Regions from separate parts of the Homo sapiens genome. Here region 2 is linked to region 1. The links come from fine-mapping of genetic effects on gene expression. Tissue or cell type: whole blood. Region 1 holds a variant in brackets; the other region holds the start of a gene. All regions are shown on one strand. Distances are from middle to middle.

What was found. PIP is the estimated chance that this variant, and not a neighbour inherited with it, causes the effect.
Region 2: it holds the start of NELFCD, and the variant in region 1 is fine-mapped to the expression of NELFCD in whole blood (TOPMed, PIP above 0.99).

What each region holds. Positions count from the first base shown.
Region 1 is chr20:59,005,096-59,013,197 of GRCh38, reverse strand. It overlaps CTSZ (cathepsin Z), which reads left to right and starts at 5,944. Exons shown (of 6, transcript NM_001336.4): 1 at 5,944-6,212; 2 at 6,713-6,876. The coding sequence starts at 6,070. RefSeq lists enhancers at 4,691-4,770, 4,911-5,020, 5,041-5,200, 5,881-6,692, 7,841-8,102 and a silencer at 5,661-6,260. The variant G/A (reference allele first, on the strand shown) is at 3,867.
Region 2 is chr20:58,978,119-58,986,220 of GRCh38, reverse strand. NELFCD (negative elongation factor complex member C/D) reads right to left here and starts at 4,965. Exons shown (of 15, transcript NM_198976.4): 1 at 4,852-4,965; 2 at 13-128. The coding sequence starts at 4,911. RefSeq lists an enhancer at 4,207-4,707 and a silencer at 4,630-5,109.

The DNA of each region.
Region 1 (8,102 bases):
GGGGGATGAAGGAGGCCAGCAGAGCCTCTGTCAGATGGCAGAAAGGGGAGGGAAGGGGAGAGGTGGGCTGGCCGTGTGAAGCTGGCCTGAGTGCCCGCATGGTCCCTGCAGCTTGGAGGCTGAGCCCACCTGTCCGCAGCCTCCCCAAGGGCTTTCCCCAGTGCATCACACACTTACCCAGTGCACTCACATTCTCAGGCCTCTGCAGACACTCTTCCTTCTGCTGAGTCTCCTTCCAGCACCTTCCATGACTGTCATTATTCAATCCCAACTCACTGGATACCTAAAAGAATGGTCCCAGACCAAACTTCTCCAGAGACCCTCCGTCTCTCCTGTTCCCCGTTTTAACTGTTTGCAAGCACTTCCTACCTCCTGAGCATTTTACTTTTCCACATGTTCCCTTATGCAGAAAACATAAGTCCTTGCAGACAGGGACTTTGTTCACTGCCGAATCCCCGGGGAAGAAAACAGTAGCCTGCACGTACTAGGTGCTCAACAAATATTTGCTGACAGCCTAACTTTAGAGGGCAAACAAATTCAATCGGGTAGTCATTGAGTGCCCCTTTGAAAGACTTCCTGGTGAGTTCATGGGTGGGCTGTGTCTGTTACATGCTGTGCTGCACAGGGTGTGTCCCAAAGGTGATACTGATGAGGCTGCCTTCATCAATGTCAGCCCAAGGAGCCACATCCACTCCCAAGCAAGTGTGCACCACCAGTCACTGTGCAACTGTCAGAGGCGTTTGAACCAGAGCGACTCCATCTTGAATACAGACTGGGTAAAATAAGGCTGAGACCTCCTGGGCTGCATTCCTTGGAGGTTAGACATTCTACATCACAGGATGAGATAGGAGGTCGGCACAAGGTACAGGTCACCAAGACCTTGCCAATAGGCCAGGCACGGTGGCTCAGGCCTGTAATACTAGCACTTTGGGAGGCTGAGGCGGGTGGATCGCCTGAGGTCAGGAGTTCAAGACCAGCCTGGCCAACATGGTGAAACCCCGTCTCTACTAAAAAAAGCCAAAAAAGTAGCCACGCATGGTGGCAGGCACCTGTAATCCCAGCTACTCGGGAGGCTAAGGCAGGAGAATCACTTGACCCCAAGAGGCAGAGGTTGCAGTGAGCCAAGATTGTGCCATTGCCCTCCAGCCTGGGTAACAAGAGCGAAACTCTGTCTCAAAAAACAAAAACAAACAAAAAACCTTGCTGATAAAAGGATGTGATAAAGAAGGCAGCCAAAACCCACCAAACCCAAGATGGCGATGAAAGTGACCTCTGGTTGTCCTCAGTGCTGATTATATGATAATTATAATGCATTAGCATGCTAAGAGACACTCCTACCAGCACCATGACAGTTTACAGATGCCACAGCAGCATCAGGAAGTTACCCTGTATGGTCTACAAAGCGGGGGAACCCTCAGTTCCTGGAATTGCCCACCCCTTTCCAAAAAACTCATGAATGATCCACTCCTTGTTCAGTGTATAATGAAGAAGTAACAGTAACTATAAATAGCTGAGCACCCCGTGCTGCCGCTCTGCCTGTGGAGGAGCTATTCTTTTATTCCTTTGCTTTCTTAATAAACTTGCTTTCACTTTATGGACTTTCCCCGAATTCCTTCTTGCGTGAGGTCCAAGAACCCTCTCTTGGGATCTGGGTTGGGATCCCCTTTCCCATAACACAACCAGGCCAGGATGTGATGCATGGTGGTGCTTGGGGACAGTGGCATGGTGGATTGCAAACCTGGCCCGCCCTATCTGAAGGCCTGCACTGCAGAGATATCTGGGTGTTAGCGAGTGCCTCTGACCCGTTGACCAAGTGGATCAAGAGGAACTCCTGTAGCTGGTGAGGGAACCGTCGTGCCCTGCAAAACCAGCCTAGCCTAGCGAGCATTGTCGGCATCCACCCAAACAAATGCCGGTATCCAGGATGTGGCTAAACTCAGGAATGTGGAATAATAGGAAATGTCTGCAGCTTGCCGGGGTGGAAGCCAGACAATATGGCACAAAGGAAGAAGAAAAAGGATTTCGAGGCCATTCCACAGTCGATGAAAACTCATCTGTGTTCTCCTCCTCCAGGTTGGGAAGGTGGGCCAGCCGTGGCCTGAGTGCTGATCTTTATCAGAATGAGGAGAAAAATCAGCCTTATTTTTAGAAATGAATAGGCTTTTGTGTCTGTGGCCTTGGATCATGTGTTTTCCAGGAGAATTCATGGGGTTAAAAAAAAAAAAAAAAAAAGGGACTGGATTGGAACCTGCCACCCAGGAGCCTCGTGCTGAGCACAGGTCACCTGACATCTCCAGAGGCTCAGTCTTTTCGCCAGTAGAATGGAGTAATAGCATCTGCCTCCCAACCCCCACCCCCACCTCACAGCATTGTGCAAAGGATCAAATGCGGCTGCACAGTCCTCTAGAATGTCATTGGCTCAGCCCTCTGCCCTCAAGCACCACTGGGAGCAGGAATGACTCCATTACCTCCAGGAAGGAAAACCCAGGATAGGTGCCAAGCTTTCCAGGCAAAGTGGTTTCAGGGGAGACGCCTTGCTCTAAATACCTACTCAATTCTGCCCCAAGCTGGAAGGCGGTGGCACACAGCTGCTTATAAAGAGCTGCTAGAAGCAATGCTTAGGCAAGTAGGGCCTCAGAGGTAGGAAGGTCCAAGTGCCCTGCCCCAAGCCTCTTCGGATCCCGGCCCAGATGAGAAGAAGAGTCAGTATCCACAAAACCACCTTGCAGGCACCTGCAGCCAAGTCAGGAGGAAACACCTTTCCGGTTTCCAAGAGTCCCCAAGCTGCTCTGCAGGTGAGTCTGCTTTGAAGAGAGAGACACAGCTCTGGGGCTAAACTCAACCCCCAGCAAGCAGTCCCCAGCAAGAAATGGCTGGGGTGGCCTGTCTATCAGGTTCCCAATGTGCTCCCTCCTCTTTTTCCAGTCCCAGACACCTCCTGGTTTTATCTGTGTGCCCTTCAGAGAACTCCTCCAGCTAAACATCCTTCACTAATAGCAGCACTGGAATTTGAGTTTGGGTGGGTTTGTGGCCATCCCCAACCCCGCCCCCACAAGGAACATGTTTAAGATCTTGCATCGAGTTAAGGGAAAAACAAAAACAACCAACAAAAACCCCAAAACCAAGAAAACCAAAAATCCTATTTAGGATCCTCTGCTGCACGATTTTAGTAACCCCCAAAATGACACAGCCCGCCAGCTTCTCGGAGCAGTCTGGCAGCCAGACATGCATCCACTCGACTAGGGCCAGGTTCAGAGATGAGGAGCCCTGTCTCTGCGTGGTTTGCTGTGTTGGACCCATGAGAAGAGGCTGGAGAGATAAGTCTCATCAGGCCCCCTTCCTTCCTTCTTGGCTTGAAAATGATGATTTCAGACCAGGCGCGGTGGCTCACACCTGTAATCCCAGCACTTTGGGAGGCCGAGGCGGCAGGATCACGGGGTCAGAAGCTCGAGACCAGTCTGGCCAACGTAGTGAAACCCTATCTCTACTAAAAATACAAAAACTTAGCCAGGTGTGATGGTGTGTGCCTGTAATCCCAGCTACTCAGGAGGCTGAGGCAGGAGAATTGCGTGAACCCAGGAGGTGGAGGTTGCAGTGAGCCGATATTGCTCCATTGCACTCCAGCCCAGGTGACAGAGCGAGACTCTGTCTCCAAAAAAAAAAAAAGAAAAGAAAAAGTAAATGATGATTTCAAATGGATAGGCTCCCTCCCTCTCTTCCTGCCCTATTCCATCAGATTCTGATCTTGAATTGCTTCTATGTTAGGGAAACCCAGGGGGCACAAGTTGTCAACTTTGGACGTCCTTTTTGTTACCAGCCTAAAAATATCCTTCCCTTTAACCAACTTTCAATAGGGTAAATCCGGA[G/A]AGTCTCCTCTTTGGAACTCCCCAGATAAATTAAGCTTTGTGCCAGCATTTGGGAGCAGGACTGTGAATGTTTATTCCCCTTCCTGACCATCTCACCCCTCCTCCTGACCCCTGTTTGTGAGTTTGATTTGCCAGAGGCTCTGGGCTGAAAGCGGGTGATGTACAGGACTTGTGATGGAGCAGGTGTGGTTGCTGTCATCAGACCCAGCTACATAATTTGCAGGGCCCAGGGCACAGTGAACCTGGAGAGCCCCTCGTTCAGCTCTGCATTACACTTCTGGACTTAGGGCCTCATGTGACTGCAGGGGTCGTGTGCCTGCCTTGCTGACCATGCCTGTCATACCTTCTACATGCGCTGGACCTGCTCGGAGAGTCTCGGGGCATCTTCAGAGCACCCCAGCTCTCCCCATGCTACAGGAAAGAAAAGCTTACACCTTGGGTGCCTTTTCACCCAGATTCAGGGACCAGGGCCCAGGACATCACAGCTCAGGCATCAGAGGCCAAGCACAAGGGGCCCTCCCCTCTCCAGGCTTGTTTCTCATGCTGTAGAATGTGCTGTTGGACTTCACAGTACCTGGATCATAACTATGGGTACCTGGAGGGAGGGGCACGATATCTCTTACCACACAATTTTGTGAGTTCTTAGCTTTTTCTTTAGAAGAAGCCAAAAACCGGCCGCTTTGGTAGATGCCACCTGATGACCTGGCAAGGGCAGCTGTGTCTGGGTTTCTTCCTCACAAGGACCCAGCTCCTATAGTCAGGGAGGCCAGAGGGTTGACATGGGAGGAAGAAAGGCCCCCTCTTGGCAATTCTCTTTCCACTCCTTTTATGCCCAGAGGTTGGGAGGCCTCGCTCCCACCCCCACCGCCAGCTCAAGCTTGGGGACTTCTCCCAGGATGGCCACCCCACCCCGCCTTCTGATGACTGATGGACACTAATGGTTTCCATGAGCGACTTGCCAAACAAATAAGAGACACATCAGTAGGTAGAGCCCCGGGGCCACACTTTGCCTCAGTGACCACTTTTTGGGGAACAAGGACTGAAACTTCTGGGCTGACGAAGCAGCTCTCCAGCCTTGCTCTCCACTCGGACAGTCATGCGGGGATTCCATGGCCACCTCAGCGCTTCCGGGAATGGTCATGGAAGCTTCTGGAAGTCAGGAGGCAGCCACTGTGACTTCCCCTTGCCCACGTGGCACGCTTGGAATGTGGTGAGTGCCACTGAGTATGGAGAGAGTCAGGCAAGCTCATCTGTGGGCCCTGTGCCAAGGGCCCCCAGCAGGGGCCTGTCAGGTCGCAGCCCAGAATGCCGGGCCCTGTTCTTACCAGAGAAGAAGGCCATGGTGTGGGCCCAAGGGCCATGACAAACAGAGGGGCCGCAGGGAGCGAGAAGCCCTCCCCCAGTTACAAAACCACGTCCTGGGGGGCCACTTCTGCTTTTGGTTCCTCATTTGACTAAGAAGAGTTTCGTTAGCAGAAAACCTTTTCAAGGCGTCTTTGGAAGTCACATTGGATAACTCCTGATGCCTGCGCCAAGTGGAATCTTCCTTTGGGGCATTTTCTAGAAGGATCCCTCCTTCCTTCTCTGCAAAAGGGAACCGTCCCCCCGAAAGGGCCTGGGCCTTTGGGAAAAGGGGTTTAGAAAGCCAGGCGCGGGGACCCTTCTTTGGGGGCGGTGGCCGCATCCCAGGATCCCTTCCTAGGGGAGGCCTGGGCCCAGATGTGAGGCTGGGGGCCTCTCCCCAGGGCTCAGGGCCCCAGGAATGCAGGGCCAAGGGGGCCCATGAGCCTGCGGCCCCCCACCCCGAAGCCAGGAACCCCGGCAAATGAGTCCAGCCGGACAGTCCCGCGCTCAGGGCGGCGGCCGGCGGCGGGGTCAGGCTGGGGTCTGCCCGGCGACCTCGCGCCTGGCCCGCGAGTTCAGGTGCCCCGGAGCCAGGGAGGGAGCGGGGCGCGGAGCCGGGCGGGGAGGGCAGGGGTCACCGGGCGGGGCAGGAGCAGCGATGGGACAGCCCCGCCCCGGGGGAGTGTCCCGGCCTGGCCGCCGCAGCCTTAAGGGCCGGGCGGGGCAGGGGCCCAAAGTGCGGGGTCGGCCGGGTGCTGGGCCGAGGCCGAGGCCGGGGCGGGATCCAGAGCGGGAGCCGGCGCGGGATCTGGGACTCGGAGCGGGATCCGGAGCGGGACCCAGGAGCCGGCGCGGGGCCATGGCGAGGCGCGGGCCAGGGTGGCGGCCGCTTCTGCTGCTCGTGCTGCTGGCGGGCGCGGCGCAGGGCGGCCTCTACTTCCGCCGGGGACAGACCTGCTACCGGCCTCTGCGGGGGGACGGGCTGGCTCCGCTGGGGCGCAGGTGGGCACCGGCGGGGAGGCAGCCCTGGGGGGACGGGAGGCCCATCGCCCGGGCCAGGCGCGCGCTCTGCCTCCTGGGGGCCCTGCGTCGCCAACAGGCCTTGGAAGGTCAGATCCAGCCGCTTCGTTTTGGGGGTCGCTCCTTCTCTTCCACATCCAGGGTGAGCCCTGATGTTTGTGGGGTTGGACAAGCCCCACCTGGCCAGAAAGCCAGGCCAGCCCCACCTCCTCGGCCTCTGGGGGTGGCCCTTACGGCGCGGCATGGCTGGGGGAGCAACCCGGTTCCCTCCTTTCGGGGGTGCCCTGCCTCCTTCACATTCTGAGAGCGCTGGAGCCTCCTAGTGTGAGGTGGGCCCACACCTGGCTCACCTCTGGTGATTGTGGCCCCACTCCCATGCCCTCAGGTGTTGGGAAAGGCGGGAGGGCCCTACCGAGGGCTTCCTGGGCCCACGGCCCCCGGGAGCCCCAGCACCGATCTGGGTGGGGATGATCTCTTCTCAGCACATACCCCCGGCCTCATGAGTACCTGTCCCCAGCGGATCTGCCCAAGAGCTGGGACTGGCGCAATGTGGATGGTGTCAACTATGCCAGCATCACCCGGAACCAGCACATCCCCCAATACTGCGGCTCCTGCTGGGCCCACGCCAGCACCAGCGCTATGGCGGGTGAGTGGCCGCCCTTTGACTGTGGGCCAGGAAAGCCCATCCCGGCTGCCTGTTTATAGGCCCAGGCAGCTCAGCCCGCGGTTCCAGGGGCCTGTGATTCAAGGCCAGGTCAGCCTGGGCTGGGGTGCTAAGGCCGAGGAGCGCGGGCCTTTGCCCTCTGCTGAGGTGACCCAAGCTGGGTCATTCTGGGGCTTTTGGGTGACAGGCAGGACTAGGACTGAATCCCAGTGACAAGTGGCTGCCAGGTGCCCTCTCTCCCCCAAAGCTTGTGACCTCAGCCATTGGGATAGAAACAGAAATGCAAAATCACTGAGTCCCCAGGCTGTATTTGAGGATACAGAAGTAAACTGCTTCTCAGCACAGATGAAAGCCTGTCCTGGGCTTGGAATATTGGGTGAGGCTAGTTGGCTACAGCCCATGGCCTAACCTGGTCACTACCTCCAGCCTGGTGGGTTTCTATCTTAGGCTTTTGGCAGGAGTAGGGTAGGGAGGCTCTTAGCAAAGAGGAAGGGGAAACTAAGGCCCTCCCTATCAACGAGGCTGCTGCACCCTGCTTTGGGAGAGAAGGCGGGAGAAGGGACAGCTGCAAACCAGCCCCAGGCCCACCCCACAGCATTTGGAAGGGACTCTGCTATCCCCTCTCCAGTCACAGCACAGGGTCCAGGAGCCTGGATTTCCCCTGGAGATGGGACTTGCGTGGCCTGGGAGTTTGGCCCATGAGCACTGTGGTGCTGTTGCCTCTTCCCTGGCCTTGGTCCTCATGGGTCAGGCCTGCTGTACACCCATGTGAAAAGGATAGACTACAGTGTGGCTGCCGCTGTGGGCCAAGGCTGGGGGACATGCGTTTGCGTGTGCTCCATCTCACTGACGCCTCCTCAATGCCATGATTGCTTCCAGTTTGCAGATGAGGAAGCAGGCTTTTTGCAGAGAGATGGGGAGGCTTGAGCATAGTGTGAGTGACAGCTGAGATTTGAGCCCGGAAGCCTGGGCTTTGTGCCAGGATGTCTGATGGGCTCAGTCTTGTGAATGAGGGGTTCTTGCTCTGGGGGTAGGGTCTGGACCCCAGAGCCAGCCAGCTGAAGCTGTGGCATCCGTGGCGTCTCCCCCGGGGGCTGGAACACACTTCTGATCGTTCAAAGGTCCCTTTGATGTGGATGGAGCTGGAAGGTCTGGGAGACCTTGGGCGGGCTGCAGGGTGTGGGTGGGGCTAGAGGCAGAGGACTGGG
Region 2 (8,102 bases), 27 kb after region 1:
TTTCTCACATACCTCTTCAGAGTGTTGAAGATGGAGGGTTCCATGATATAATCCCGGGTGGAAAATTTATGCAGGCATTCTTGCTGAACCTCCGCATCATCCTCTCCTTCTCCAGAATCATCCTCCTGCTGTTGGTAAATGCGAAGAGCCAGGATATTTTTTTCATTAATACAAATACCCTAATCTCACCTTAAATCGTATAATGCTGCCCATTTTGAAAGTATTCTACACACATTATTTCATTTGACTTTCATGACAATTTCATGAAATGGGCTGGACAGATAGTGAGTGGCTAGGAAAATGGGATCCAGGATCACACTGAGTGGGTGTGTACAACTCCTCCCTGGCAAACCGCGTTCCATGCTCACACAAGTTACCCAACCTCTCTGAGTGTCCATTTCCTCCTCTGTTAAGTGAAGATAATAATAACGCCTATTCCCATTTGGCTGTTGTGAGGATTCCATGAGCTAATTTTTGGAAGAACCCAGCATAATCCCTGACATTTCGTAACAGTGCAATAAATAGTAAACTATTATTATTATTGTTTTCACTATTCTTATTTCATACATGCCACTGAAGAGTAACAACCTGATTCTTGAAAGCGTGAGCCATCACTTACCATTAGAAAGTAAAGACCACTAACTCGCCTTGCATCCACACTTCTGGCTGGACTCCAGTCCCAATTCTATGTGGAAGCAACTTCAGGCCTGTCACTCCATCTAAGGGCAAAGCAGGCTTCTTCACCTGCTAATGACCATGTGAGGATGGACTGTGATCCCAAACCCTGTCCAACTTTAACACTGCCACCCTAACTAACAAGCAGATGCTTTTTGAACATTCAGTCTGCACTATGCTCATCAACCAAGGAACCTAAGAAAATGTAAGACAAGACAAGGCTTTTTCCATCAAAGAAGTTCACAAACTAATAGGAGAGACAGACCTCCATGCAACCTACTCTAACATAATGGGGCAAGAGCTGGGCCAGGGGTCAGCAAACTATGACCCAGAGCCGAATCCAGCCCTCTCCTATTTTTGCAAATAAACTTTTACGGAACACAGCACACCCATTCTTTTAAGGACTGTCTATGATTGCTTTCCCCCTGTAAGGGCAGAGGTAAGTAGTTAAGACAGAGACAGGCACAACCTAAAATATTTGCTATCTAGCCTTTTTCAGAAAAGTTTGCTCACTCCTGATCTGGACTAAGATCCTAAAAGCAGTGCTTTGGGAGCAGACAGAACCCGATGACTTCCCAGTAAAAGCTGTGGAGTCTTCTCTCAGACCAGATTTGCATGGGGAACGCTGAGCCCCTAAGGGCATGACAGAGGCCGGACTTCACCCCGAGCTTCATTCCCACGTTGTCTGTTCTCTTGGGCTTCCACCCTGGGCACTCACCTACCTGCCTCTTCCACCACCTCTTGGGTCATGCTATCTACCTGCTCACCAATCTAGAATTAGCCTGGATCTCTCTCTCCGTCTTTCCTCTCTTAAGCTCCAGACTCAGGTATCCAACATTCCATTCTCATTTCCAGTCAGATGTCTCACAAGTATCCAAACTCTTTAGGTCCAAAACTGACATCTCTTCCCTAGAAACAGATCTTCTTCCTACAACCCATATTTCCGTAAAGGTATCCTTCATATATCTACTTGTTACCCCCCAAACCTGAAAATCATCCTCAGCTTCTCTCCCTCACCCCACCCCCACATCCTGTCACAAAGACTCATCAGTTCCATCTCCCATCTGTCTATCCAAGGTGGTCCTTCTTTCCACATTTGCCTCTGCTCTTCCTTATTTTTTGTATGCTTGCAGTAGCAACATTCCCCTGAAGTCTCAGTCTTATTCCTTCCTTTCAATCATCTTTCACACCGTGGCCACAGTGATCTTTGTAAGCCACAAAACTGACGTCTCTCTCCTGCTTAAAGATTCCCATCTCCTTCAGGAAAAAACGCCCCAGCTCTAGCAAGAGCGTGCCCTTCCCACTTCCCCTGTCCGTTCTGACCTCTCACCACTCCCCATTTGCAATCTGTAGCAGGACTCATCTATTTGCATGTCTGCAGCTCTTAGTTTCCACCATCCAGACTGAACATCACGGTGGCCTCCTTACACATCTTCCTACCTCCCACTATGTAACATGGCATCAGGCGAACAGAATTTGGGTCACCAACTATCTTTTAAAATCCAGTTCTTGCCACCCTCCTAACACCTTTCCTAACTTTCTGTACCTCTTCCAAGCAGAGTCACAGAATAAACATGAAATGAACGTCTGGTCCACCCCCCTCATCCATGAGAGCCCACTGGTGTCAGTGGGCCAAATTAGGATCATGATTAAAATTCCCCAAACATGAGACTCCCCAATCTCCCATCAGTGGGGTCTAGGTCTGACTGCACAAACTTGGGCAAATAACTCACGTGCTTGGTCTATAAAGTGAAGGTACTGATTAGATGGCCCTTATATGCCCCAGTTCTAACACTTTATGACTCAAAGCCTCAAGGTGAGGCCGGGCACGGTAGCTCACACCTGTAATCTCAGCACTTTGAGAGGCGGAGGCGGGCAGATTACTTGAGGCCAGGAGTTCGAGACCAGCCTGGCCAACATGGTGAAACCACATCTCTACTAAAAATACAAAAATTAGCCGGGTGTGGTGGCACCGGCCTGTAATTCCAGCTACTTGGAGAATCACTTGAACCCAGGAGGTGGAGGTTGCAGTGAGCCAAGATGGCACCACTGCACTCCAGCCTGGGTGACAGAGTGAGACTCCGTCTCAAAGAAAAAAAAAAAAAAAAAAGGCCGGGTGCGGTGGCTCACGCCTGTAATCCTAGCATTTTGGGAGGCCGGGGCAGGCGGATCACCTGAGGTCAGGAGTTCAAGACTAGCCTGGCCAACGTGGTGAAACACTGTCTCTACTAAAATACAAAAATTAGCCGGACATGATGGCGGATGCCTGTAATCCCAGCTACTCAGGAGGCTGAGACGGGAGAATTGCTTGAACCCAGGAGATGGCAGTTGCAGCGAGCTGAGATCAAGCCACTGCACTCCAGCCTGAGCAGCTAAGCGAGACTCTGTCTCAAAAAAAAAAAAAAAGAAAAAAAGGCTCAAGGTGATATACTAGATGCCCCAAACACCAACCTACCACTAAGCTAATTCACACCTTCTCATCTGGACCACTTTGGTAGTCAGCAATTTGACGAAGTGGCAACGGAGGCAAAGGATGTGGGTTTGGGTCCCCTCTCCTTCCTTTATTAGTTTCATGACCTTGGGCAGGTCAGTAAGTCTTTTCGTCTCATTTTCTACACTTACCAGATAAGTAGGGTAACACCCAACTCAAAATCCTGTGTGTGGAAGGGGATAACGCATGACACACATGGCCCAAGCTCTCAGTTAGCTAAGTCTGACTCTATCCACTCCACCCTAAGCCTCCAACACTGTGAAATGATCCAACATGCAAATCTACTCGTGTCACTCCCTGCCCCAAACTCCTGAACAAGCCATACCATTCAGCAGCTCTCCAAGGATCTTCAGAACCTGCTCCCTACTGACCTCCTGCCACTGCTTCCACCAGGCAGCTAACATCACAGGGCTTCTTTCAGTTCCAGAAACACATCGCCCGCCTTGGCATTTTAGACCATGGCTCCGAAGCCGCCATCACACCACCACCCATGTTTATCAACGTAAGCCCCACTTCATCCTTTATTCCCTTATAATACCACTTCAAAATGCACCAGACATCCCCAATCTTGATTGTTGTTAAAAATGCAAGTTCCTGGGCCACGAGCAGTGGCTCACGCCTGTAATCCCAGTACTTTGGGAGGCAGAGGTGGGTGGATCACCTGAGGTCAAGAGTTTGAGACCAGCCTGGCCAACAAGGTGAAACCCCCTCTCTACTCAAAATTTTAAAAATTAGCTGGGCATGGTGGTGGGTGCCTGTAATCCCAGCTATTCGGGAGGCTGAGGCAGGAGAATCGCTTGAATCCGAGAGGCAGACGTTGCAGTGAGCCGCGATGGCGCCATTACACTCCAGCCTGGGCAACAAGAGCGAAACTCCACCACAAAAAAAAAAAAAAAAAAAAAAAAAAAAAAAAATGCAAGTTCCCAGGCTCCCGTCCAGACCAACTGTTGGGCCGTCTCCAGGGGAGGGACGTGAGAAGCTACATTTCAATCATGCGCCTCAGTTGGGTCTTTAGAGTAAGGTGGGGACACACTGTCCAGACTAGAGCTACCTGCCCTGGCTCTGCAGTCCCTGTCCTCAGGGTGGAACAGTGATCCCTCCTGGGCTTCCACCCCAAACCCTGGAAGGTCAAGGCCCGAAAATCCTTTCCATCAGTTTGCCCAAAAACAGATGAAATCAGCCCAAGGTGCTGAAGAGTACAGTTTATAAAACAGTAAAGCACATGTAGGAATGCCCTAAGTTCTACTTTTTCCTCATGATGCTGCTGTGAAGTTTTTCCACTTTATTTTTGTTTAAAAGTCTGTGAGCTCCGGACCCAACCCTCCACCTTAGCGTTGGTGTCCCGCCCGCCGCGGGGGTCGCAGGGCCGGCGCCGGGCCTGGCCGGAGCGAGGGGGTACTGGGGGCCTCGGGCCGCCCCGCGCCAGAGCCTCCGGCGCCTCACCCCCACCCCAAGGTCCTGCAGGCGAGGAGGCGGGGACCCCGGCGGCCGCGCCGCGGGACCCCGGGCGGGCGGGGGCGGGGCGGGCTGTGCTTGAACCACACGGTGACCGCGCGGGCCGTGCGCGCGCACACCCCCCGCACGCCCGCAGCCTCGCGCCGCGCGGCCTCTCCGGGAGTGGGGCCGGCCCGCCGGCGGCGGAGACGAACGATTCTCTCTAGGGTGCGCCCAGTGCCCCGCCTCACCTGGCCGCCGTCAGCCTCGTCGCCCCACTCGGCCGCGCTCCCGTAGTAGTCCTCGTCCATGATGGCGCCCGGCACGGCCCCCGCCATGCCCTCCCGCGAGCGAGCGCGGCGCATGCGCGAGGCGGGGACGGGCGGGCGGGCGCACGCGCGGCCGCGCGCCTCGGCCCGGGCGGGAGGCGGGGCCTGGAAGAAGGGGCGGGGCCTGGAGGAAGGGCAGGGCCGCGGGCTCGGCACTGGGAACAAAGGGGACCGGCGGAAGGAACGCCCCCAGTCGATCCCGGAGCGATGCCCGGGTGGACCAGGGGCTTAGCTCCGGAGAGAGGTTTCCCACTGGATTCGTGCACAGCCCCTCCCCTGCGGCGCCGGCTCTGCGAGCCCCAGTTTCCTCATCTGGCAGCTGGAAACAAATCCTTCCGGAAGTGTCCAGGACCCACGAAAGTGTTTTAATTTCTTTTAGTTTTGGTAAAAAGTACTAAACGCGACCGGGCGTGGGGGCTCACGCCTGTAATCCCAGCACTTTGGGAGACCGAGGCTGACGGATCACTTGAGGTCAGGAGTTCGAGGCCAGTCTGGCCAACATGGTGAAACCCCGTCTCTGCTCAAAATACAAAAATTAGCCGGGCGTGGTGGCATGCGCCTGTAATCCCAGGTACTCGGGTGACTGAGGCAGGAGAATCGCTTGAACCCGGGAGGCGGAGGTTGCAGTGAGCCAAGATCGCACCATTGCACTCCAGCCTGAGCGACAGAGCGAGACCCTATCTCAAATAAATAAATACATACATAAAAAGGGCAGGGCACGGTGGCTCACGCCTGTAATCCCAACACTTTGGGAGGCCGAGGCGGGCGGATCACCTGAGGTCAGGAGTTCGAGACCAGCCTGGTCAACATGGTAAAACCCCTTCTCTACTAATAACACAAAAATTAGCTGGGCATGGTGGCGGGCGCCTGTAGTCTCAGCTACTCAAGAGGCTGAGTCACGAGAACCGCTTGAACCCAGGAGGTGGAGGTTGCAGTGAGCCAAGATCACACCACCGCACTCCAGCCTAGGCAACAGAGTGAAACTGTGTCAAAAAAAAAAAAAAAAAGAAAAAGAAAAAGAAAGAAAGAAGAAAGAAAGAAAAGAAAAGAAAAAAGAAAAGAGAAGAAAAAGTACTGAATGCAGTGGAAAGTAGCATTTTTAATTTTTTATAAAGTGGAAGATAGGCCCACAAAGCAAAAGTGCCCAGAGCTGACAAAAATCTCTGGAGAAAGGACCTCTCTGGTCGTTGCCAAAGGGAGCAGCTGACGCTGTTGTAAAGCCCGCAGCTCGATTCCCAGCGTGAAGTAGGGGGTGAGAATATGACAGCCTCCTGATGATCACGGAAAGGTTTTTGTTTGGTTGTTGTGTTTTTGTTTTGTTTTAATTTTAGATTCGGTGCGTGTGCAGGTTTGTTACATTGGTATATTGCGTGATGCTTCTAATCCTTTCGGCAACTTTTTCAGCCTTTACCCCCCTCCACACCTTCTGCCTTTTGGAATACCCCATGTCTGTTGTTCCCATCTTTGTGTCCAAATCACAGAAAATTTTAAACAGGGAGATTAACGCCATAAAATCTGGATGCTTTGAAAGGTAACGCCCGTGGCTGAGCGCCGCGGCTCACACCTGTAATCCCAGCACTTTGGGAGGCCAAGGTGGGAGGATTGCTTGAGGCAAGAGTTTGAGACCAACCTGGGCAACATAGCGAGACACCGCCCCCCCCCTTCCCCCGCCCCCAGCCAGGTATGGTGATGCACGCCTGTAGTCCTAGCTGCTCGGGAGGCTGAGGCAGGAGGATTGCTTCAGCCCAGGAGTTTGAGGTTACAGTTTGCTATGGTCGTGCCATTGCATTTCAGCCTGTGTGACAAAGTGAGACCCTGTCTATAAAGAAAAAAAAGAAAGGTAATGCCCATGTCAGTAAGGAAAGAGTATTAGAGAAAAGAGCTCCAGAAGATTGATAATAGTGACTACTTTTGGAGAACTTATCAGGGAATATGTCTTCATTTATTCAACAAATGTTTATTGAGTGTTCCCTAAGTGCCCAGCACTGCGCTGCTCCCTGGAGCTCGGTGAACAAGTTGGACCTGATCCTTGTCCGGGTAGAGCCTACATTCTACTGAAGGAGCTGAATGGGGGGAGGGGGTGGGGGGAACAAATAAGATAAAGACAGAAGGTGATCAGTGCTAGTATTCTGTGATAATAGAATCTTCTTGGGGAGATCAGAGATGGCTGCTGAGCAGCTTACATTTGAACTGAGTCATGTCATGAAAGGGGCAAGCTAGCTAAGACCCAGGCAAGAGCATTTCCAGAGAGCAGAACTGCCAGGGCAAAGGCCAGGCATGCGTACTTGGAACAGAAAGGCCACTGAGAGCGGCACCTGGCAGGCCAAGGAGAAATCTAGATGAGGTGGGCAAGGCAGGGAGGGCCAGATCTTGGGAGGGAGTTAGGTCTGTATTAACTGAGGGCCATCTCTAAGGATTGAATGTAATGAGGTATGCCAAGCACTGAGCAGAGAGCTTGCACATGGTAGGTGCTCAGCAAGTATGCATCATTATGAGGAAGATGAAACGTTTGGATTTTTTTTTTCTTGCTCTGAGCGGGTGAAAGGACATATCTGAATTTTCAAAGGCATTTCTCCTAGCTGAGGGGGCCTTACAGAAGGAAGTGAGAAGGTGAGAATGTAAATTAAGAAGCTTCCGTGAGCATTAATGGAGGGGGTTGCTGAGAAGGAGCTGTGGCTAACTGCTGTGAAGTTGGGGTCAAGTCCAGAGGATACAACAGCCTTGGGGGTGGGAGATGGGGGCCAGGAACAGGGGCAGGGAAGATGCTGCTGTGACCCCCAGCTTGTGTGCCTGGGGATGGCCCATGGCTGAGACAGGGAACCCAGGAGGAGGGCAGGTTTCTCCATGGGATGATAATGAGTTCATTGGGTTGTGCTGAGTTAGAGGTGCCAACAGAACACCCATGCGGAGATGTCCTGCAGGTGGTTGGAGGTGGAAGTCTGCAGCTCCGATTCAAAGGATCCAGCTCCAGCTTCTATTCACAAGATTAAAGTGTATTAAGTTAATGAGTGCCCCTGCTGTTGGCTTGTTTCAGGGTTCATTTTCACTTGCTTTCTCAAAATGTTGGAAAGAATAGATGGCTGTTAAACTCCTCCTACCTCTCCTCTTAGATTTTTTAAAAAATAGTGCCAGAATTGAAAGCGGACCAATTAATGTATGTATAACTAATTGTG